Homo sapiens: one gene and its partners. The protein of the gene in region 4 purifies or fractionates together with the protein of the main gene of each other region. This does not show direct contact. Each region holds a gene or a part of one and is shown on either strand. Other genes may lie near its edges.

The links.
Region 1: the proteins of SYT6 (region 4) and RMDN1 purify together in Homo sapiens (affinity purification with mass spectrometry; one large-scale study listed by BioGRID and IntAct). This does not show direct contact.
Region 2: the proteins of SYT6 (region 4) and RAP1B purify together in Homo sapiens (affinity purification with mass spectrometry; one large-scale study listed by BioGRID and IntAct). This does not show direct contact.
Region 3: the proteins of SYT6 (region 4) and PDS5A purify together in Homo sapiens (affinity purification with mass spectrometry; one large-scale study listed by BioGRID and IntAct). This does not show direct contact.
Region 5: the proteins of SYT6 (region 4) and TKFC purify together in Homo sapiens (affinity purification with mass spectrometry; one large-scale study listed by BioGRID and IntAct). This does not show direct contact.
Region 6: the proteins of SYT6 (region 4) and CKAP5 purify together in Homo sapiens (affinity purification with mass spectrometry; one large-scale study listed by BioGRID and IntAct). This does not show direct contact.
Region 7: the proteins of SYT6 (region 4) and GLRX3 purify together in Homo sapiens (affinity purification with mass spectrometry; one large-scale study listed by BioGRID and IntAct). This does not show direct contact.

The regions. Positions count from the first base shown.
Region 1 is NC_000008.11:86,481,187-86,484,686, reverse strand, and holds part of RMDN1 (regulator of microtubule dynamics protein 1), read left to right. Parts: intron 1-3,500.
Region 2 is NC_000012.12:68,659,399-68,662,898, forward strand, and holds part of RAP1B (ras-related protein Rap-1b isoform 1 precursor), read left to right. Parts: 3' UTR 1-3,500. UniProt on the Homo sapiens protein: GTP-binding protein that possesses intrinsic GTPase activity. Contributes to the polarizing activity of KRIT1 and CDH5 in the establishment and maintenance of correct endothelial cell polarity and vascular lumen.
Region 3 is NC_000004.12:39,862,912-39,866,411, forward strand, and holds part of PDS5A (sister chromatid cohesion protein PDS5 homolog A), read right to left. Parts: intron 549-3,500; coding exon 425-548; intron 163-424; coding exon 1-162. UniProt on the Homo sapiens protein: Probable regulator of sister chromatid cohesion in mitosis which may stabilize cohesin complex association with chromatin. May couple sister chromatid cohesion during mitosis to DNA replication.
Region 4 is NC_000001.11:114,098,370-114,101,869, reverse strand, and holds part of SYT6 (synaptotagmin-6), read left to right. Parts: intron 1-2,604; coding exon 2,605-2,776; intron 2,777-3,500.
Region 5 is NC_000011.10:61,343,228-61,346,484, forward strand, and holds part of TKFC (triokinase/FMN cyclase), read left to right. Parts: intron 1-114; coding exon 115-231; intron 232-628; coding exon 629-748; intron 749-908; coding exon 909-1,046; intron 1,047-2,032; coding exon 2,033-2,139; intron 2,140-2,234; coding exon 2,235-2,338; intron 2,339-2,484; coding exon 2,485-2,518; intron 2,519-2,629; coding exon 2,630-2,719; intron 2,720-3,067; coding exon of another isoform or gene 3,068-3,097; exon of another isoform or gene 3,098-3,123; coding exon 3,124-3,257.
Region 6 is NC_000011.10:46,836,281-46,839,780, reverse strand, and holds part of CKAP5 (cytoskeleton-associated protein 5), read left to right. Parts: intron 1-3,500. UniProt on the Homo sapiens protein: Binds to the plus end of microtubules and regulates microtubule dynamics and microtubule organization. Acts as a processive microtubule polymerase. Promotes cytoplasmic microtubule nucleation and elongation. Plays a major role in organizing spindle poles.
Region 7 is NC_000010.11:130,174,391-130,177,281, reverse strand, and holds part of GLRX3 (glutaredoxin-3), read right to left. Parts: intron 2,416-2,891; coding exon 2,376-2,415; intron 2,286-2,375; coding exon 2,193-2,285; intron 1-2,192. UniProt on the Homo sapiens protein: Together with BOLA2, acts as a cytosolic iron-sulfur (Fe-S) cluster assembly factor that facilitates [2Fe-2S] cluster insertion into a subset of cytosolic proteins.

The DNA of each region.
Region 1 (3,500 bases), on a different chromosome or scaffold from region 4:
GAGTGCAATGGTGCTATCTCAGCTCACTACAACCTCCGCCTCCCGGGTTCAAGCAATTTTCCTGCCTCAGCCTCCCGAGTAGCTGGGATTACAGGGGCACACCACCACATCTGGCTAATTTTTGTGTTTTTAGTAGAGGTGTGGTTTCACCATTTTGGCCAGGCTGGTCTCAAACTCCTGACATCAGGTGATCCACCTGCCTCGGCCTTTCAAAGTGCTGGGATTATAGGTGTGAGCCACTGTGCCCAGCCGACAGTTTGTTATTTCTTGCAATTCTTTGGGTTAACTGAGCGCAGTGGCACTTCTACATTGCTTGGTATAGCTGGGGTCATTTAGACAGCTGCATTCACCTGGGCCCTCAGCTGAGACTACAGTGTCCAAGATGGCCTCTTACCTATGAGAGTTTCTCCTCACTTGTTTTTTTATCACTTAGTTGTCTAGCTCAACCTTCATTATAGCATGGTAGTCGGCTTCCAAGAATGAGTGTTCCATGGGAAAAGATCCAATGTACAAAGTTCTAGCAAGCCTCTGCTTGCATCACACTTGGTAATATCCTGTTAATCTAAACAAGTCACAAGGGCAAGCCCAGTTTCTGTGGGAGGGGAGCATTGACACAAGTTCCTGAATATGGAAAGCGTGGTCCAGTGTAACAGTCTTTAACACAATTGACACACCACTCCTTGTAGTAATAATTCTATTTAAGATTGATATCTGTGTGTATATTGTATGTGTGTTTTATTAAAAATATTTTCCCCTAAAGTTAATTATTTATAGTAAGCTGTTAGGTGCAAAGAATTGCATAGGAGTCTGTATATTTCTTAACATGGATGAACTTCATTGTCTCAAAAAAAAAAAAAAAAACTACCACAAAAATACCAGCATATTTATTTCTCTTTTGAGATTATAGGAAGGAAAAATGATGGAAACATACATAGGGATAGTGCTGAATTTGCTATTTAAATAGTTTTTCATAATTTTATGGTTTAGTGTCAATTCCTAGTTTATATAACAACTAGTGAAAAAGAATGACTGGGAGTCCAGAGACCTAGCTTTTCTTGTTCAGGTATGGATAGTAATATATACATAATAACTGACATTTTATAATGTAACAATTTACCTGTTTCACAGTTTAAAATCCTTGAAATGAGATTACATGATGTAATTGCTGGAACCTTACATTGTAGTTGGCAGTGATACTTTCTTTCTTAGTGGCACATAAACTAATGGTGTGTCATTTTTGATATTTTAGATTCAGGGAAATACAGTAATTTTCTCAGTGGCATTAGATAAATTGCTTAATTTCTCTGTGCCTCAGGATGTAGAAATACATGACATAACTTCCAAAGGGAATAATGAAGAACTGTAGAAAATACACAAATGTATACTTTCCATTTTTTTAAAAAACAGTGAAGGTTATAGATTATAAAAAACAATGTTTTATATAAGCTTTCAAATGTACATGTTTATATTTTAAATGGCAATATTTAGTATTTACATATAAAAAAGATCATTTATACTGCTTACATTTCAAATTCCATTATATATCTAAAGTGGTAACATCTTTGGATTATTTTTGAAAGACCAGTGGCAGGAAGGATTGATTATAAAAGAGTTTGCTTGAAAGTACCCCTCTCAACCCTTCTCATAAGAAAATTAAACCCTGGCCTGGGCGGCTGCCTCCACGATGCCACTGCTCATCGAGGGGCAGCGAGTGCGGCTGCCACAGTCCGCCGGGGACCTCGTCCGAGCCCACCTGCCTCTGGAGGAAACAGCCAGATGTATCAGAGGTCAGTCTGTTCAACAACTGGGACCCCAGGGCCTTCTGTATGTTCAGCAAAGAGAGCTCGCAGTGACCTCCCCAAAGGATGGCTCCGTCTCCATTTTGGGTTCTGATAATGCCACTACTTGTCACATTGGGGTCCTGTTGCACACAGGTTATGGCGCCACCTGCTTGACACATTGTGATGGAACCGACACCAAAGCTGGGGTCCCCTTGATCATGAACTCCATAAAGTCTTTTTCCGACTGCGCTCAATGTGGAAGCCTGGAAGTATACCTCGTGGGAGGCTTCAGTGATGTGGGAGGCAGTTGTCACAAAAACTCACTCATTAACTTCTTAGTGAATTTGACAGGCAAGAAGATGACATTCACTTAGTGATACTATGATTATGTGTGACAGAATTAAATGACCAGGAAGAAAACGAATAACACTTTCTAATAATATATGGCATTGCTGTCAACTTAAGACTGCAAAGATTTACAGAGCCTCCTTTCTTTTTTTTGTTTGAGACAGAGTCTCCTCTGTTGCCCAGGCTGGGGTGCAGTGGTGTGATCTCGGCTTACTGCAGCCTCTGCTTCCAGGGTTCAAGTGATTCTCCTGCCTCAGCCTCCCAAGTAGCTGGGATTACAGGCGCCCACTGCCACACCTGGCTAATTTTTATATTTTTAGTAGAGACAGCGTTTCACCATGTTGGCCAGGCTGGTCTCAAACTCCTGACCTCAAGTGATCTGCCCACCTCAGCCTCCCAAAATGCTGAGATTACAGGCATAAGCCACCGTGCCTGGCCTACAGAGCCTCCTTTCAAGATCGAGGTCCAGAGGAGCAGCTGCGTGCCGCGTGAGCTTTAGCAGGAGGACCAGTGATTAGCATTTACGATGCAAAGACAGAACAACTTCGTATAGGACTGTACTCCTGGACACCATTTCCACATGTGGATTTCTGCTTGCAGCAAGATGACAAGCAAATACTAGAGAATCTTTCCACTTCGTGTCTGGCCGAGCCACCCCACTTTGTTGAACATATTAGATCTACCTTGATGTTTTTAAAAAAAAATACTGCTCCAACTAACACACTGTTTCCTGGAAATAAAGCCCTACTCTACAAAAAAAATGAAGATGGCTTGTGGGAAAAGATCTCTTCTCCAGGAAGCTAAAAAAATAGGAATTACCAAAGAAAGCAGAACCTTCTTGGCCTGACAGAGACCATTGGTGGGGCCAGCAAGAATCCAAATTTGGAACCTACATCCATTGGGTCTTAGGTCTTCTCCTTCCTTCCTCAGTGTTTTTCAAATGACTTTCAAAATAAAACCTTATTTTGGCAAAGGCAAAAAAAAAAAAAAAAAAAAAGGAAAATTAATTAAACCCTGATCCCCCCAGGCATCCATTGTGATGAATTAACTTCCTTCCTATGCATCTAGAATGGGACTACAGTATTTCTGTATCATTCTTAGGAAATAGAAAAAAATAGTTACTTACACAATTTTTTTGTAGGGCTTAATTTTTAGTGGAACTCCCAATTGAGAAAGGTTGCTTAGAGCATAAGTTGCATATAAACATGTTAAGATACTTATTTATTTTTTACCACAACCTTATGAGTTAAGTACATGACTTTTCCATAAAAGAGAAAAAACTCAGTTGTGGTAAGAATATAGATCTTGCAACCAGTTCAAGGTCATTAAGCTGTGACTTGAATCCTGGCAGTCTGGTTTCAGAGACCATGC
Region 2 (3,500 bases), on a different chromosome or scaffold from region 4:
ATCAGTTTGCACATTCTAATCACTTTCCAGTATCACAAGAGAGATTTTTACTTATATAATAGTCCTAGAGTTTGCAGCTGGTAAAACCAGAGGCTACATCCAGTATTACTGCTAAGAGACATTCTTCATCCACCAATGTTGTACATGTATGAAAATGGTGTACTGTATACTTTAACATGCCCCATACTTTGTATTGGAGAGTACAATAATGTAAATCCTAAAAGCACCACTATTTTAGCATAATAAAAGAAAGTCCAAAGAGCTCCTATATAGACTACTCCAGATAACTTCGCTTCTTTGATACTTGTAGCTTATTGTAATTTTTTTTAAGAAATTCAAGGTCATTATTATTGTACAAAATAAGCGCTTTGATTAACACAGCTATATAGTTTTTTTAATTTTTAAAAAACCTGTGGAGACGGTGATCTTGTCTTTAAAACATGATAGTCCTTTCAGTATAATGTCTTAGATTAAAGACGTTGCCTTTAATATCTGTTGGGAAGGAAATGTCCAGACTTTTCAAATCTCTTATTATATGTTTCCTTTTTTTGTTTACATAGGGAACAATGTTTATAGTCGTGTGTACAGTGGGGGTCTACAACAAGAAGTGTATATTTTCAAACAATTTTTTAATGATTTAACAATTTTTGTAAATCATTTTCAGGCTTCTGCAGCTGTAGATTCTCACTGTGAATCCCTTGCTTGCTCATGCATAAGTGTATTTGCAATACCAAATATACAGGTTTAGTATTTTTGCCTGTTAGTGATTGTTTCACATGTGTAACGTTTTGGTTGAGATGTTAAATGGTGGACGAGTACTGTGGATGTGAATGTGGGAAGTAATTTTAATCATATGTAATTGGTCACAAGGCCTAATTTGCAGTAACTATTGCTGTTTTATTTAACAATGCCTTGTTGCTTTGTATGCATTAATGTTTGGATGTAAAGATTGTGTGTCTATCCAACAGGGAGCCACAGTATTTAAATTGACCAACCTAATGTTACAACTACTTTGAGGTGGCCAAATGTAAACTAAAAGCCTTAATTAAAGTGGTGCAATTTTGTATAACTTAGCATCAGTAGTTCAATAAATTTGGATTGCCATGCAAGGGCTTGCATTATAATTACTTGCCACTTGAATGTGTTTTGTGTAATGTTTTAACAGTGCTAGTAAATAAATACGGGTTTACCCTGGTTTTAATTGTAATAGGTGCATTTTACACAGCATGGTTTCATAATTTAACATCTGGGCAAGCCAGACTCATTAATTACAGGAATAAGGAAGTAGCGAGTTTTCTGGTATTGTTTGAATATCCACATAACCACCTTTTGAACTTTTCCTTGAGAAATAATTTTGTAAATCAAGCAGTATTACTTACGAATAAATGCCTTTGGGTAATGTTCAGTAGCTATTTGATGAGGTAGGTAAAAGAGGAACGATTTAACATACTTTCATGGATGTTACACTATGGATTTTTTAAAATACAGGATTGAAGTTAGAATATTGTGGTTATAAAAATCTTTGAGTGATGTGGATTAAGCACTTAGAGAATCGATATTTTTCTTAAATATGCTATAATTGAATTCTGTAAGAACTGAATTCTTATAGAATTATTTTAAAACTTTTTAAAAATTGTAAAGCTCTTAAAAAACTTTTTGAAAGTATTTGCCAGCTACTGGAGCAATTAATCAGTGATAATATCTAATAGAGGGGTATCTGCTAATCCCCTAAATACACGCTGTTTGAATGATACATTTTTAAAGGCTTTCATGTTAAGAAAAAGTCTGATTCTTTACAAAAGGGACTTGTTTTGGCAGAACTGGTTTTATTTATAATCATTTGGGAAAAAAATTAAGCCCAAAAAACTGGGACTGTGAAACACTAAAATTACTTCAATTTACTATGTCCTGTTACATCCATTGATACCGCCATTATTCAATAATTACTTTTAATAAATGTTTGCTGCCTACCAGCTATGTACCAGGCCCAGTTCTAGGCTCAAACAGCTAAATATTCATTCATTGGACAAATTAAGTACTTAAGTATAAAAATTGTTCTAGGCCTAAGGATGTAGCAGCAACCAAGATCAACTATAAAATGCTGCCCTCCTAGAATTTATATTCTATTGAAGAGTTTCTCAGCCTCAGCACTATTGATGTTTTATGTTTGATAATGTATTCTGGCGACTCTCCTGTGCATTATAGGAATTTTAATATCTGCCCACTAGATGCCAGTCACACCACCCCAGCCCCCAAGTTGTGGCAACCAAAAATGTTTCCAGACATTGCCAGATGTTCCCCAGTTGGATTGTTGGGGGACAAGGGAGGTGAACTTGGAGGGCAAAATCACCCTGGTGAAGAACTACTGCTCTGGTGGGAAACAACACATTAGTTACAGATGAGTGTTAGGGTTACAAGATGGATGGTTTACTATATAGTGAATAAGAATATAAAGTTTGGAGCCAGACTTCCTGGGTTTTTAATCCCAGCTCTTCCAGTTCCTACTATATGCCTTTGGTTGGGTGCCTTGGTTTCCTCATCTGTAAAATGAGAATGATAATACCTACTTCATAGGAGAGTGAAATGAATGCCAGTGCTATCCTCTAGGTCTATATATATATATATATATATATATTATATATAGTACATATATAGAGAGAGTATATATATATATGTAGTACAGTGGAGGTCTATATAATACTATATATATAATTTATTTTTTTCAATGCTGATAGGAATAAGGCTGTGGTTTGGCAAAAAGCACCATTTTCTCCTATACAAAATAGTAACTGCAGTTTGGGAGCACAACTCATGTAGATTGACTTTTCTGGTGCTTAATGGGAAAATACTAAAATAATTGAGTCAGAAAAGGCATGAATTCCTTTTCACGTCCCCAAGGATACTTGAAGAAACTTGAGTTTTAGGAGAAAATCAGAGTGGTCTTTCACTTACATTTTTCTAAAAAGTGTAAAAACCCTGTATTGACTTTCTTGTTGATTCAGTTGTTTCTTAAACGTAAATAGCTCATCTTTACCATATGTGGGCATTACAAATAGAAATTTTTAAAATTCCATTTATAAAATGAAGTTTTGCCGTTTTTTTTTTTAAATCATTCCGTCTTTAGTTGTGGGACAGCAAACTTAGAATCGAAACTCATCACTACAACTTTTCTTTGAGTTAAACTCTTATCTGTGTTTTCATTGAATTTAATCTCCATCTATTCTATCTCTTCTTAAATCTTGGAAATGTAAAAGGGAGTTATAGTGTTTTACAATTAATACTCTTACTATTACCTTAGAAGCCTTAAAAGTGCTTGCAGGCTTGTCTCATAATCTGTCAGTGAGCCTTAACATTGTGATTTGTAAGACTAAAATTTTTTTTTCAAACAAAACAAATCTGACAGCCTGGGCAACATAGACCCCATCTCTACAAAAAAAAATTTTTTTTTAATTAGCTGGGCATGGTGGTGCACGTCTGTACCTGTAGTCCCAGCTATTCAG
Region 3 (3,500 bases), on a different chromosome or scaffold from region 4:
GATATTTTTCAGTAAACATTGTCGTGCGTGTGCTCTTCTCTCCTTCACAGGATCTTTGGCACACAAGGCAAAGATCGCCATATACTCCAATGGGAGCAGTAACTTCACAAGTGCCTTATGCAGCTTCTGAGCAAATATCTGCCTTACTTGGTAACACTCATCCTACAGCAGCACAGAAAAACTTAAATTGGCAACCATTTATTAAATAAAAAACAGCAGTTTAAGTATTTTTAGTGTCTTCAATTAAAAAGAAGATAATTATATGGGAGAATAAATAATGTAATAATTGGAAGACAGTTAAACAGGTAATAATAGTAGTGACTTTTGTGCATATATTCACATTATAAATGGATTTGTATCCATAGAAAAGTAATGTATTCAACTTTGAAGATAAGTAATTGACAAAAATAAGATTGTTACTTACATTAATAACAAGTGCACAGAGCTGAAACTGTTCTGGGGTAATAATTTCATGGTAACAAGGTTCCTGAGCAAGCTTCATTATGGCACTACCAGCAGCTAATCGCAAGCGAGACATATCAGATTTACTATAAACAAACAAAAAAGAAATAAACATTTCCTATAACCACTATCATTCATAAAAATGCTTTCGTCCCTTTTTGAATGTAAGGTCCTTAGAGCATAATTTATGTTTAAAATGACGTACAAATATGGGAAAGCTACTTTGAGTCCATGAACTTAACACAGGGGATTGTGACTTTCACAATCAAATCAAATCATTGTGACTTTCTGATTACAAATTTACCTGCCTTCATTTCTAGTCAAACTCTAGCTTAGATACTTCACCACAACCCAAAAACTCTGCTTATTCTTGCAACCATAGTAATTGCAAGGCTAGGAAAAACTCTTTACATCAGGAGCTGTATCCCTCATTTTAAGAGAAATACATATTGATTGTAGAAAACTTGATTAAAGTGGCCAGGCATGGTGGCTCACACCTGTAATCCCAGCACATTGGGAGGCCGAGGTGGACGGATCACGAGGTCAAGAGATTGAGACCATCCTGGCCAACATGGTGAAACCCTGTTTCTACTAAAAATACAAAAAATTAGCTGGGTGTGGTGGCACGCACTTGTAGTCCCAGCTACTTGGGAGACTCAGGCAGGAGAACTGCTTGAACCTGAGAGGTGGAGGTTGCAGTGAGCCAAGGTCGCACCACTGCACTCTACCCTGGCAACAGAGTAAGACTCTGTCTCAAAAAAAACAAAAAACAAAAAACAAAAAACAAAAAAACTTGATTAAAAAAACCACAAAGAATTAAAAAAAAAATCACCTATCATCATTTAAAATCTATTTCCTGCATATAAACATGTAACAGGAATCTAGTTTAATGCCTGCTGAAATGGCAGGGCTGCAGTTAAGAGTGAAGAAGTATCAGACAAATACCTAAAGGATATGAAATATAAGAGGCCAGTGTCTGTCTTAGGTACTAGTTCCTGGGGCTGATCTCCTTTTGCAGAGTAAAGTTTTCAAATGGAACCTATGAAGCCTTGGCACTCCCACCCCGACACTGTGGATTTTTATTACTTACGTGGTAAAATGTGGTAATGAATGGGATGGCATGGGAGTCTTTCTACTTCGACTTCTATGTGGAACATAGCATGGCTTTTGTATTTATTGTGACCACTTTACGAAATGCAGAAAGCTAGCCGGAACCCACTGGGACTGTTGCTAAGCATAGAGAGAAGAAAACCTGGCACTCTTGGACAACAGGATTGTTAAAATGAGCACTGGTAACAATGAGGGAGCCTCAAATGGTTTCTATGGCATTCATTCAGGAATCAAAGTTAATAGCTATTATGTGAGTGCTTACTCCGTGCCAGGCAGGTGTGAAAAACACTTTATAGGCTTTATCTCAATTAATTTTCACTCCATAAGATGAGGAAATTGAGGCTTACAAAAGGTAATACTATATTATATGATATCCAGTTAGGATCTGTCCAATGGGTGTTCATTCTATGGTTAACCATTCCCCTATTTTTTGTGATGGAAAATAATGCTGGAGGAACATGCTTGTGTATAAGCTTTCATATGATTCTTTTATACTCATGAATTATGAGTGTAAAAATAAAGAGTCAAGGATAACATTTTTGAGGATCTAGATGCAAAATGCCAAAGAGTCCTGCTAATTTATACTCATAGGAGTAATGAAGGAACCCATTTCCATGATCATACTGAGGAATGATTGCTTATAACGTTTTTTTTTCTTTCTGATTTGTAATGAAAAGAGGTATTGATTAAGTTTAAATTGTATTGACTGCATTTAGTGATGTTAAACTTTTAAAAGTAAACTGATAATAGCTAAACTTCATCTCCACTGGGGGTCCTGCCTAGGTATCACTGACTTGTAAGAGCTCATTATTATGCCTTTGCCATGTACTGTACATAATTACCCCCAATTTAAAGCTTTCATTATCCCTAACTCAGCTCTAAACAGTGTTATAAAAGGCTGCCTTTGGCTTATTCTATGATAAAAATAGAGCGTAGTGGTGCACACCTATAGTCCCACTACTCAGGAGGCTGAGGCAGGAGGATTGCTTGAGCCCAGCTAGCCTGGGCAACATAGTGAGATCCCATTCCTAATCACAATAATTTTTAAAAAAATTAATAGCATAGCAGTACCACATAACTAGCCAAAGCTGGAGTACAATGGCGTGATCTTGGCACACTGCAACCTCCACCTCCTGGGTTCAAGTGATTTTCATGCCTTAGCCTCCCCAGTAGCTGGGATTATAGGCACGTACCACCACACCTGGCTAAATTTCTATATTTTTAGTAGAGACAGGGTTTCAACATGACCTCAATTGATCTGCCTGACTTGGCCTACCAAAGTGCTGGGATTACAGGCGTAAGCCACTGCACTCAGCCTCATAAAGAATGATTAAACCTCTGTCCTCTAAAACAAATTTTTAAAAAGGAATGCATCATATGTAGAATACTTTAGTTATCTATGTTGGTAATCTTGGCCCCTACTAAATCAAGAATTTGACAGAAACCAGGATCATGAAAAACTGAGCTTCTATTTTCATCTTAAAATGAGATGGCAATTTTAGAGATTAAAAGTGAAAATGTGTAACAATGTAAACAATCTCTGTGTGCACATACAAGTGTACACACCCAAATCTGTAGAACAACAAGAAGGCTTCAACTCTCCCTTGAGTTGCCATTGCAATTTTTATTTTTATTTATTTATTTATTTTGAGACAGGCTCTCGCTCTGTTGCCCAGGCTGGAGTGCGGTGGCACGATCTCAGCTCACTGCAACCTCTGCCTTCTGGTTTCAAGCGATTCTCCTGCCTCAGCCTCCTGAGTAGCTGGGATTACAGGCATGTGCCACCATGCCTGGCTAATTTTTGTTTTTTGTTTTAGTAGAGACGGGGTTTCACCATATTGGCCAGGCTGGTCTTGAACTCCTGACCTCGTGATCTGCCCGTCTCGGCCTCCCAAAATGCTGGGATTACAGGCATAGGCCACCGCGCC
Region 4 (3,500 bases):
GTATCTGGAACAGTGGATAAAACACAGTAAGCATTCAATAAATAGATACCGAATGAATGGATGGTTGAATTTACAGCATGAGGAACCTGGCCCAAGGGTGAAGCAGTGGGGGTGTACTTGCTAGGAGCCTCTCGAACTAGATCTCCTGTTCTTGAGGATGAGTTTGAGGTTTCCCTCAGCCCAGACTTATTCGATGTTGGACTAAGCTAGGTATTGAATGGAGCTTATTAATTGCCTATTCTTGAATTGTGTGGCATTGATGTCTAAAACCCAGGATCTTCCTATTCTCAATGATCTAAACTAGCCCTGAATCAATTCTCTAAGCCTATCTGCTAGAACCATGACACTAAAAATAGCACAAAATAATAATAAGGACCAGTATGCTACAAAGGGGTGGTGAGCACATTCTAAATGCTGGATTTTGATTGCTCCCATGACAATGAGGCTGAAATACACTGCTGGTCTTTGTGTCCCCTCCCTCAGCTGCGTAGAGCATCATAGGCTGTTAGAGAGGAAAGGACCTCCAAGATCATCTGGGGCCAGCATTCCACTAGAAACCGCAGACTTTTGCCCCAGAAAAGCCTAGGGAACGGTCATCTGTCTGCTTGGCTTCATGGATGCTGGTGAAAGTGTTGGTTCCTGCAAGGGAAATATGTGCACTGAATTTTATAAATTTCATATCAGCCAGGCACAGTAGCTCATGCCTGTAATCCCAGCTACTCGGGAGGGTGAGGTGGAAGAATCACTTGAGCCCAGAAGTTCAAGACCAGACTGGGCAAAACAGCAAGACCTTGTCTCTTAAAAAAAAATGGATATGCCTTGTAAGGATGAACAGAGTTGGGGAAGGTTGCTAAGACATTTGCTCAGTGGCCCATGGGACAAGTGGCTCTGCCTCTATTTTTCCAAGCCTCATGATATGGAAATCTGCCCTGATGTGGGAGTGTATGGAAATAGGTAGAGCAGGGGAATGAGGCGGCACCTGAGCAACCTCAAGTCTGGAGCCACTTTGCAAGAAAAGGTACATCCTTATGGATTTTGCAAGCTGCTGTGTTAAAGACAGGTATTGGGGCTAGCTCTGCCCATCTGTCTACCTGAACCTGAATAATGTCCTGGGGCATATCCATAGAGAATGGAATCTGTGGAAACCAGAGCCTCATGCCGGTTCTCAAAACTCTTACTTCCATTTTACTGAAAATCCCTAAGAGAGGGTCCTTTCAAATGTGTAGTTTGAGACAGCAGGTTGATTAAACACCTCATGGTCTCTCCATAAACCCAACCTCATCTCCCCATGGTTAAGGCATAGCTACTGCTGCCACATGGATTAGTCGGCAGCTCATTTAGGTGTCTACAAAAATGCCTTTCAGGCTTGGAGTTTCTGATCAGGTGTCACAGTTCTCCCTAATTTCCACCAGGGATGTGTGCCTCATCTGCCATCTGAATGATGCCAGGGAGTACAGGGCCCTAGTGGGTGCTCGATGTCCAGGAGATAGAACCATATGCCTATGAATCACAGAGCTGGGGAGCAGCTGCTTGGCTGGCACCTCCTGACAGATTCACAGGAGCCCTGGCTTCTGGGCAACAAGGTGTCTCAGCACATCAGCGTCTCGAAAGCTATTATTACCTGTGAGCCGCCCTCCCATTTCTTGAGCTGTGCAGCATAAATAACAATTATGATGGTGACCGAGACACCTGTGCTATGAGATACACTAGGTTTCACTTCACTTGGGTGAGTAGAAAATTTCAGGGTAGAAAGATGACCATGAAATACCCATTCAGAAAACTAAAGAAAACAAAAGGATGGGAGGCACATGGAAGTTCAATAAAAGCATCTCTTTGCAGGATGGAGAGAATCCAAGATCCCACTGAGAAAGGAAATGTCAACCAGCTGCCCTGAGTCTCCCCGGGCCACAGCTCCCTCATTCTCCACTGTCCAGAAGTGGGCAGGAAATGGCTTCCAGGGAAGCAGAGAGCAGGGCCACTTCACGCCTTCTAGATGCCAAATGGAAATGGGATTATTGAGACAATGGGACCCAAAATTATGTTGTCAGGTGGGGAGGACATGAACAGCATTGTGATTGTTGCTGTTCATTTCACTCTGACACATTGTGTCTCCCTGGCCATTGTTGAGTCCTATTTTTACCCCGCCCCAAAACCTTTATCCTTTGGTTTGTAATTCTGGTAAAACAAAAAAGCCACTCAAAGAATAGTACTCCACATAGGTAAAAGAAATAGTGTCATTGTTCAGCCTCATCACCTTTTTGAGTCAGCCAGGGATTGACGAGCTGAGATTTAGGGCTGTGAACTGCATACCTATCGGCAGGTGTCATGTCTGATATGGGGCCAGCTTCCCCATTAGTAAAAGTCCATTAGGCGCTCTCCCAAGAATACTGAGGTAGCTAAAGACTCTGCATTTATTAAGCACAGAGTGTCCTCAGAGACAGGTGTGCTACATAAATACAAGGTGGTTTAATTATTTTAACAACCCACTGATACCATCTGATGAGCAGCAGTAGGTCTAGGGCTTCGGTCCCTTTGCTGCAAATGATGTTTGCAGACATCTGTTTAACATACTCCATTCCCTTTTCTCTGTCCCCATTGGCACAGATCCCTATGTGAAAGTGTCCTTGCTCTGTGATGGGCGGAGGCTGAAGAAGAAGAAAACAACCATAAAGAAAAACACTCTCAATCCTGTCTACAATGAGGCCATCATCTTTGACATTCCCCCGGAAAACATGGATCAAGTCAGCCTGCTCATCTCAGTCATGGACTATGATCGGTAGGTAGGCGTCCTAGAGGGACGTAATTCTACCCCTCACTCCCACTCCAGCACCAGCACAGGGCTCCTTGACCTTAGACCTTGTGATTCAGGGCTCAGCTTTAGGGTTCAGGCCTCAAATCTATCTGTACCCAAGAAGGGTGCAGGAGTTTGAGGAAGAGCATAGATTCTCCCTTAGCAAAGGTTCAAAGTTCTTTTCCCAACTGGCCTATCTCCGTCAGGGGCAGCTCTGTCCATCAGTTTCCCTGAATTCACCCCTTGCTATTCCCATTCTTCCATCTGGCACCAAGTCCTATTATCTGGCCTTTGAAATGCCCCTCTATCCTCTCTATTTCTGCTGTTGCTACTACTGTCACCCTGGGATGGCTGTGCAGCCTCCTAGCTGACCCCTGCCTCCATCAATTCCTGCCACAATTCGGTCAACATACTAAGGACACATCTTCCTAAATGACAGCTTTCTTCCTGGACCTGCCCTTCTCAAGAACCATCAATGGCTCCTGTGATCCAGGCTTTTCCCTTGGACTCTGATGGCCTTCCCTAATCTGGACCCAGCATATCCATCCAATCGGATCTCCCCTTCCTCAGATATTTTTCGTCTCTTCCACTCATCCTGCTCTTCCATCTAGGCTGGCTCAAAAACATTTTTCAACTACTCTGGTCCCCATAACTTCTTCTCTCCACTTGTCACTTTAGCTAAAGGAGAAAGAAACCATGCAATAAAGCC
Region 5 (3,257 bases), on a different chromosome or scaffold from region 4:
GGACATCTCCCTCCCGACCTCAGAGCCCCAGCTTCCAAGGTCCTTGCTTTTCTGTTGTTTTCTTTCCCTGATGCCCATTTTTCCCTTTTGGACTGCCACACTCTGGTATTGCAGAGGGCCGCGGGGTGAAGATTGCCCGTGCCCTGGTGGGCACCTTCATGTCAGCACTGGAGATGCCTGGCATTTCTCTCACCCTCCTGCTGGTGGATGAGCCTCTCCTGAAACTGATAGGTGAGACTTGGAACCTGGGGTCACCCAAGCCAGGGCTCCTTGTAACTGGAAGGAGCCAGGGAGACTTGGAGACCCCGTCAGGGCTGACCGTGACAATCAGGGCTCTGGAGCCTGTGAAGAAGGCTCTTCCTGGGCTTCTCCAGCCTTCTCCAGCTCTCACTGGACTAGAAGGAGTTGGTATTAGGATCCTCCTCAGAGAGGCCTGACCCTTTCCCAGGGACCCTCTCTCCATACCCCTGTATACAGTAGGCACTCAGTCCATGCTTGTCGAGGTGGACTCCCTTCCTCCAGGGCTGCTGAGAAAGCCAGGCCACCAGGGTCAGGATGGGAGGGTCCAAGCCCTGCTGAATCCCTGGCTGGACAGCCGTGTCTAAGAGAGTTATCTTGCTGCCCTTAGATGCTGAAACCACTGCAGCAGCCTGGCCTAACGTGGCTGCAGTCTCCATTACTGGGCGGAAGCGGAGCCGGGTAGCCCCTGCCGAGCCCCAGGAGGCCCCTGATTCCACTGCTGCAGGAGGTACCAACCCCTGCCTTTGGGGAAGGGACAGGCTTCCCAAAGGATGCAGGAGTATACGGTGGGGCGGGTAGGGGCCCTGGCACCCACACCTCCCACCATAGTCAAGTGTGGTTGTGAGAAGGGCCTGGTGGGCCTGTTCTTCAGCATCCTCCCTTTCTAGGCTCAGCCTCGAAGCGGATGGCGCTGGTGCTGGAACGGGTGTGCAGCACTCTCCTGGGCCTGGAGGAACACCTGAATGCCCTGGACCGGGCTGCTGGTGACGGCGACTGTGGCACCACCCACAGCCGTGCGGCCAGAGGTTGGTGCCAGGGACTTTGCCAAGTGAGGTCATTCACAAAACCTTAGCCCCCCTTCCACTTGTTTCCCTGAAGGCAGGGACCTTCCTTTTTTTTTTTTTTTTTTTTTAAGAAGGAATCTCACTCTGTCGCTAGGCTGGAGTATGCAATGGTGTGATCTCGGCTCACTGCAGTCTCCGCCCCCCGGGTTCAAGTGATTTTCCTGCCTCAGCCTCCTGACTAGCTGAGATAACAGGCATGCGCCACCACGCCTGGCTAATTGTTGTGTTTTTAGTGGAGACGGGGTCTCGCCATGTTGGCCAGGCTGGTCTCTAACTCCCCACCTCAAGCCATCCGCTCGCCCTGGCCTCCCAAAGTGCTGAGATTACAGGCATGAGCCACCACACCCGGCCGACAGGGACCTTCTTAACACCACAAATGTATGAGGTTGTTATCTTAGAATTAAATGAAATCCTTCACAGTGAATAACTTACAACTCAAGGCGAACTTATTCTGTTGTCCTTATTTTTCTCAGTTTACCCAGACCAGTGAAAAGCTCTTAACTGTCCAGCATCATTCATTCGAGAAAAAGGTATTTGGTGCCTGCCGTGGGGCAGGCACTGCTCTCAGCTGTGGATACAGTAGTGAACAGAGCAGACAGAAATCACTGCCCTCATGGCTTATGTTCTAGGTGGAAGACAGTCAACCAGATAAATCAGTAAAACACAGAGGATGTTAGCACAAAGGGCTAAGGAGAAAAAAACCAAGCCAGGGAGCAGAGTACAGAGCGTCAAGTGGAGGGCTTCGGGGCAGGCCTCACCTCCCCAGGCCCCTTTCGGTTACGCAGCCCAGCCCCTCTCCAGACTGCACACTGGATGTGGAAAGGGATCTTGGGAAGCCTTCATTCCACTTCCCTGTCGGCCTTTTCCAGCCTTCATTGGTGCTGGCTGGAAGTCTGGCAGATGGAGGGAGGATCTCTGAATTCCTCCCCATCTCTCTCTGCCTGCAGCAATCCAGGAGTGGCTGAAGGAGGGCCCACCCCCTGCCAGCCCTGCCCAGCTGCTCTCCAAGTTGTCTGTCCTGCTCCTGGAGAAGATGGGAGGCTCATCTGGGGCGGTGGGTGCCTGGGGGCTGAAGGGCTGACAGGGAGGTGGCTGGGCTGGCTGGGGTCCAGGCCAGCACCACATGCTCAGCGTTGTCATCTTCCCCAGCTCTATGGCCTGTTCCTGACTGCGGCTGCACAGCCCCTGAAGGCCAAGACCAGCCTCCCAGCCTGGTCTGCTGCCATGGATGCCGGCCTGGAAGCCATGCAGAAGTGAGCCAGAGCCCTGTGCATCAGACCAGGGGTGGGCTGGGGGAGGTGTTTGGTGACATCTGCGCCCTGCCAGGCCCTAGCCCAACCCTCAGAGTGATTCCCTTGGTTCCCTATAGTGAGCCTCTTTCACTCTCTTTCCCTGCCAGGTATGGCAAGGCTGCTCCAGGGGACAGGACTATGGTATGTACTCAGGCTGTGGCCTCAGACCTTTCTCCTTTTGGCCCTGTAAGTCTAAAGAGCACCCTCGGTTGCAGGGCCCGTGCTCAGCCCCCTTTCCTTCACCTTGTCCAGCTGGATTCTCTGTGGGCAGCGGGGCAGGAGCTCCAAGCCTGGAAGAGCCCAGGAGCTGATCTGTTACAAGTCCTGACCAAAGCAGTCAAGGTGAGTGAGGCTGGGCCCAGCCACCTGGGGAGACAGGCTTCTAGCCAGCAGACTCCTGTCTCCATGTGACCCTGAGCAAGTTAATAACCTTCCTGGACCGCAGTTTCCTTCTCTGTACAATGGAGATGAGCACCTATCTCAGAAGGTGGTTATGTGGCTAAGGAAATATGTAGAGCCCCGCACACTGCCTGGGATGTGACAGGGCCTCAGTGAATGGTGACCCTTTTCCCTGCTGGAAGTAGATGAGAAGTGACTTTCCATTTGGTGACAGAGCAGAGGGTGCTGGCAGAGCCAGGGCAAGGGCGTGCAGGGCCAGGCTGCACGGCAGAGACGTTCTGCCCATGGCAGGAAGGAGGCGGCCTGGTGATCTGCCCTTGAACCTGCTCCCACACCCCATCCCCCAGAGTGCCGAAGCTGCAGCCGAGGCCACCAAGAATATGGAAGCTGGAGCCGGAAGAGCCAGTTATATCAGCTCAGCACGGCTGGAGCAGCCAGACCCCGGGGCGGTGGCAGCTGCTGCCATCCTCCGGGCCATCTT
Region 6 (3,500 bases), on a different chromosome or scaffold from region 4:
CAAAATCATAGAACTAAGTGATAGAATCTGAATTCAAACCCAAGTCAGTCTGTCTCCAGGGCCTTTGCTCTTAACCTATGATTGTACTACGTGAAGTAGGGATCTGTAGGAGAATTCAGGAGCAATTTCTGGGTAGAATTCCCCCAGCCCCTTTTAAAAAAGTACTTCTATCGGAGATGTGATGAAATATGAATGACAGGCATGATAGTTTTTAGAGGAAAGATGGCATTTACCATATGGAAGATGGACAACTGTGACAGTGGTGGCGGTGGGTAGCTAAAGGGACGCATAAAAATTGAGTTCTTAATCTAATTAGGATTCTTGGTAGTCAATGTTGGAGAGTTTTAAGGTTTTTAAATGATTTTCCTATTCTTGCCTCTGGAGTTTAGAATACATTACTTAGCTCATTTCTATCAGGGCAGTTACTCTACCTACTTGATGTGTATAACTCCAACACATTACGCTTATTCTTTTCGGTCTTTGCATTCTGTTCTGGAACTTCTCACTTCACTCTACCCCTACCCCCAGCCTGTATTACTGGCACTCTCAGGCTTCAACTTAAATGTCATCTCCTTAAAGAGACACTTTTCTGAGCTCTGAATTAGAGGAGCCCTCTTGGTCACTTTTACTTCACTTTTCCTTATTTACTTCATAGCATATATTGTTATGTAATTGTTTATTGTTTGTCTATATATTGTTAGATTTTCTCATAAAAATGAAAGCAGAACATAGATTTTTTTTTTCCTTTGAGGTTACCTCAGTGACTCAACAATGCCTGCAACAAACTAGGTGGTCAAAAATATTTGTTGAACAAAATTGGCCAAAACTGGCATCATCTTCTCTGAACAAAAAAGTGATAAAAACAGTATCTGACTATTCAGTTGGCTGTGTTTCTGTGTCTTTATTTATTTTTTTTTATTTTTATATTCTAAAAATGTTGCGACAATGGTGGCTCAGCAATTTTTTTTTTTTTTTTTTTTTTTTTTTGAGATGGGGTCCCACTCTGTCTCCTAGGCTGGAGTGTGTTGGCCTGATCTCTGCTTACTGCAACCTTCACCTCCCGGGCTCAAGGGATCCTCTCACCTCAGCCTCTAGTGGCTGGGACTACAGGCGAGTGCCACCACACCCGGCTAATTTTTTTTTTTTTTTTTTTTTTTTTTTTTGAAGAGGCAAGGTATTACTATGTTGCCCAGGATGGTCTTGAACTCTTGGACTCAAGTGATCTGCCTGCCTCGGCCTCCCAAAGTGCTAAAGTGCTAGGATTACAGGCGTGAGCCACCGTGTCTGGCTGTCATTTTTTTCTTTTTGTGGAGACACAGTCTCAGTATGTTGCCTAAGCTGGTCTTGAACTCCTGGCCTCAAACAATCCTCTCGCTCCAGCATCCAAAGTGCTGGGATTACTGGTGTGAGCCACTGCACCAGGCTTGTTCCTGTGTTTTTGGGTGTAAGCAGTATCTTAACAGTCTCAATTAGTCTTAAAATTATTTTAGACTAGTTCAGAAAGTCTTTAAGAAAGCTAGAAAAATTATACATCTGAATTTTTTAAAAAAATTTTAATCTGTTTTGAGAGGTACTAGTCAAATACATTGTAAGATGTCCTTCTATTGGAATTTGTCTGATGTTTTTCTCATTAGACTGGAGTTACAGGTTTTGGGCAGGAAGACCACAGAGGTAAAGTGCCATTTTCATCACATCATATCAAGGGTACATGCTATCAACATGATTTATGACTTAATATTGACCTTGACTGTTCATATTGACCTGAAATAGTGTTTGTGAGGTTTCTACAGTGAATTTACTTTTTTTTCCCCTCCTTTTCTATACTGTATTCTTTGAAGGGAAGTCACTGTTTGCAGCCCACACTTAAGGAATGGGGAGTTCCTTGATCTTAGGGTGGAGTACCTACTTAATTTATTTGAAATTCTTGTCTCTCCTTTCCCATTTATTAGTTTAGTCAAGTATTTACTGATAATAGTGTGGACTCAAGTATATTTATTTTATATTTTAGGTTACACTCCAATATTACATTATTTTGTTGTTCAGGTTGTTCCAGCTTTGTCCTTTGGGAGCTTCCTGTATTCCTTTAACATACATGTGTGTGTGTGTGCGCGTATTTGTATTGATCTTTGAGTACTTCCTTACTATCTGGAAATGTTCCAGGCTCATCTTGTGTATTTCTTGTCCCAGTGCTAGAATCAGCCATTTCCCCAAGGTGCCCTGGTTCCCTTATTGGAGAATGCTATTAGAAACAAGACCTGGGTACTGAGTGTTCTCTTTGCTACTGGGGTGTCATTTCTTTTAGGTCCTTTCAACTGTTAGAGCAAAGAAATATATGAATGTATGCTAACCCCATGTATATAGACATATCTATAAATATTTCTCTATGTAGCCATCTGTGTCTATATTAAGTTAAACGAGTTCCATAGATCACTTTCAGTAGTATGGGCGGGGGGGAAAAACATGAGTTCCTACTGGTGTCTCCAATTCTGATCCATTATCACATAGATCATTCTAGCCTCCTCCCCTTGCTGATCTTTGAATTTCCATTCACAATAGTGAAAAACCTAATTTCCACCATCCATTTATTTAATTGTCCAGTTCCATTATATATGGATATACATACATGGATAGCAGTATCAGAATTGCTAACCCATACTCCATGAAAAAAACTTTATCAACTAGAGTACATACTTCTGTGCAGTTCCTTTTGCCCTTAATCTTTCAGACTCCACTCATTACCAAAGCTACTTAGGTCAGAACCTTTTTCCCACCCCCTTTGGTGAAGTTGTTTCACACATCTGTAATATAGATTCCCTTGTCATAGTCTTCATTCTTTTCTGCAATCTCCCAGTCTCCTAAATGACTTTTTAAAATTTGCATACATTAAAGTTCACTCTTTATGTCATAAAAGTCTCGAACTCCTGCCTTGGCCTCCCAAAAGTGCTGGGATTAACAGTACAACCCACTGTGCCCAGCTGACATAAATTTTTAATTCAGTTGGATAAATACCTAGAAGCAGGTTGCTGGATCATATGGTAAGACTAGTTATAGTTTTGTAAGAAACTGCCAAACTCTATTCCAGAGTGGCTGTACCATTTTGCATTCCTATTAGCAATGAATGAGAGTTCCTCTTGCTCCACGTTCTTAACAGCACTTAGTTCTATCTGGTTTTTGGATTTTAGCCCTTCTGGTAGGTATGTAGTGTCCCCACTTTATTATTATTATTATTTTAAAGAGATGGGGTCTCACTGTGTTGACCAGGCTGGTCTCAAACTCCTGGCCTCAAGCAATCCTCCCATCTCAGCCTCCTGAAATGCTAGGATTATAGGTTTGAGCCACTGTGCCTGACCTAGTGTTCTCACTTTTTAAAATTATTCGTTTTCACGACATTACCTTTTTTGAAAATAAATGTTAGTTTTTTAAGAGGAAACTTTTTAAAAATTAACTTTATTTTGGAATAATTATAGATTGTTCCAACAGAAAAGTTGCAAAGATGATGT
Region 7 (2,891 bases), on a different chromosome or scaffold from region 4:
ATAACAACTCACAATTTTCTCAGGACACTAGATTAGCTGAGTAACTAAATCATCATTCAGTCCCTCATTCAACAAAACAAACGCTCATTGCTCCAAAGAGGCCAGCCAGATTAGACCATTTCAAACATCTTTTAATTGAACTGAACATGAAGAACTGCATTCTGCAAGAAACAGATCAAAATGGGATCGTAAGATCTATTCCATATATCTTCTCAAGGAAAAACGTTAACAATATCACACATTTCAAACGTATATGTTCTTAGCAGGTGAACATAAAAAATCATATAACACTCTGTTATATAACTAAAAAGAAGTTACCCACGCAGCTTAGCTTTAGAATTAAATGAGATTTATTGATTGTATCTTCCCAAGAGTTACCAATGGCTAAGGTACAGGCTATAAAACATTCAGACAAGAACAGGCTCAAGAGTATTTGGGGTTTGAGTATTCTTTGTGTCTTACAAAAATAAGACTATATATATATATATAGAGAGAGAGAGAGAGAGAAAGAGGGAGGGAGGGAGGGAGGGAAGGAGGGAGGGAGGGAAGAAACAAATGCAGATCTGTTTCTGCTGCTTCAGGGCTATTCAAGAGCAATAGTCTTAAAAATTTTTTCCTCCAGGAGTGAGACCATTCCCCAGGAAAAATGTCTCACTGGCTTGTTTAAGAAGTATGATATCAAACCTGGAACTCCACAGGAAACAAAACCTACACAGAGGCCACCAAAGGACAAAAAGAGCCTCTGCATCAATGGAACTCAAGCTTTGTTTTTATAAAACATATTGGTCCAAAGTGCTGATGTCATTTCAGTGGTAGGCTAGTGCTTCACTTTACAAAAGCACGTGTTAAAAACTTTTATTTTGGCCAGGCGCGGTGACTCATGCCTGTAATCCCAGCACTTTGGGAGGCCAAGGTGGGCGGATCACCTGGGGTCAGCAGTTCAAGACCAGCCTGGCCAACATGGTGAAACCCCATCTCTACTAAAAATACAAAAATTAGTGGGGCGTGGTGGCGGGTGCCTGTAATCCCAGCTACTCAGGAGGCTGAGGCAGGAGAATCACATGAACCTGGGAGGCAGAGGCTGCAGTGAGCCGAGATTGCACCATTGCACTCCAGTGGGGAACAAGAGCGAAACTCTCTCAAAAAAAAATGTAAAAAAAAAAAAAAAACTTTTATTTTACAACATAACTAGAAGTAGTACTACTTGCTATTTGTTTTCCACATAAAAAGTCGAAGATCTGACCTCAGAAAATTCTCTCATGGATTGAGGCAAGAGGAAGGCCTGAGGGCAGTCAGCAACCCACTTTTCGGGGCAGTTTTGTTCATGCCCCTGAGCAGACCCTGGCATTCCTGCCCAGCATTCCTGTCTAGCTCCTCTCTATACCCAACCAGCTACCACCCTCCTCGATGCCACCATGCCCACAGTGGGCCTGGGGTGCAGTGGGGTCTGTGTGTAGATATTAAAGCTACAGCTTCTGTTTATTGTTTTGGGCTAATCAAAGAGCTACAGAGCACACAGGTGTTAGTTGGTGGGCCTGCCCTGAATTCTAGACATTAAATACATGCAAAGTAACGTCCATTTAAAACTCAATCAAGAAGTAAAGTCACTTATCCATCCAACAACCATTTACTGAACTCCTAAAATACACAAAGCATCAGGAAGGACTCAAGATACATAAGAAATGGTGTCTTATCTAAAACACAATCTAACAGATAACAGATTTCCAAGCATCTCAAAACCAAAAAGGACCTACATTTTTTCTTTCGGGGGACCAGGGGCAGTGATCCTCAGCCTCTGTGGCAAGGATGGGCAGCACCGGGCCACAGGCCTCACACTGCTGTCACTCCATGCACCCAAGGGCAGATGAGTAAGGCAAGAAAAAACAATTTGTTGTCTGGGAGCTGAAGCAGGATCTAACAAGGACCCTGAGTGACAGGGAAGATCACCCCACAGAAAGGAGATGCAATGGTTAGCTCAGGTGTGAAAGTAAGAACAGGCTGCCACGTGGGGACAGTGAGAATGGCAGGGTAGTCATGCACACAGAAACGGTGATACTGGTCTAGAAATGTCTGAGAGTCAGGCTGGAAACAGGAGTCAAAAACAACTCTCAAGTTTCCATTCAATATGAAATCATTTTTAAACATACCAAAATCTTTTCCGTTCTTTAGAACAGCAGAAGAACTGGCCTTACCTTCACAATATCCAATCCTCCCACCAGCTCCCCTTTCACATACAGCTGAGGGTATGTTGGCCAATTTGAGTAAGCTTTTAATCCTTGCCGAACCTAAAGAAACAACAGGAATCCTGAAACCATCCTATCAGGCCCTTAAGATTAAAGCTAAGACAAGGGTGAAACATCAAACACAGAACTTACTTCTTCATCCTCCAATATATCGAATGTTTCATATTCAACACTGCAAAAAAGAGAAGACATTTTAACTGGAAATACAGTTAAATCAAAGTGTAAAACCTCTATGCATTTGATGTTTTTAAAATAATCAAGAAAACCGTTTCACTGCTAACAAAATGTACTACAGACCAATGGAAATGATTTTACTTCTTAATCTGTCTGGTACTACACAGAATTAGTCATTCCAACATATGACTTTATCTGGATTTTTCTCCGGACAATATTGGGTTAGACCAGGGGTGGGCAAACTTCTTCTTAAAGAGTCAGACACTAAACACTTCAGGCTTTACAGGCCAGACAGTCTCTGCTGCAACTGCTCAGTTCTGCTCTCTGCTGCAACTGTCAGCATAAAAGCAGCCACAGACAATGTATAAATGAAGGGATGTGGCTATGTGCCAATATAACTTTATTTACAAAAATGGGCAGCCAGCTGCAACTTGCCAACCCCTGGATCAGACCCACACCCCCATCTGCACGAGC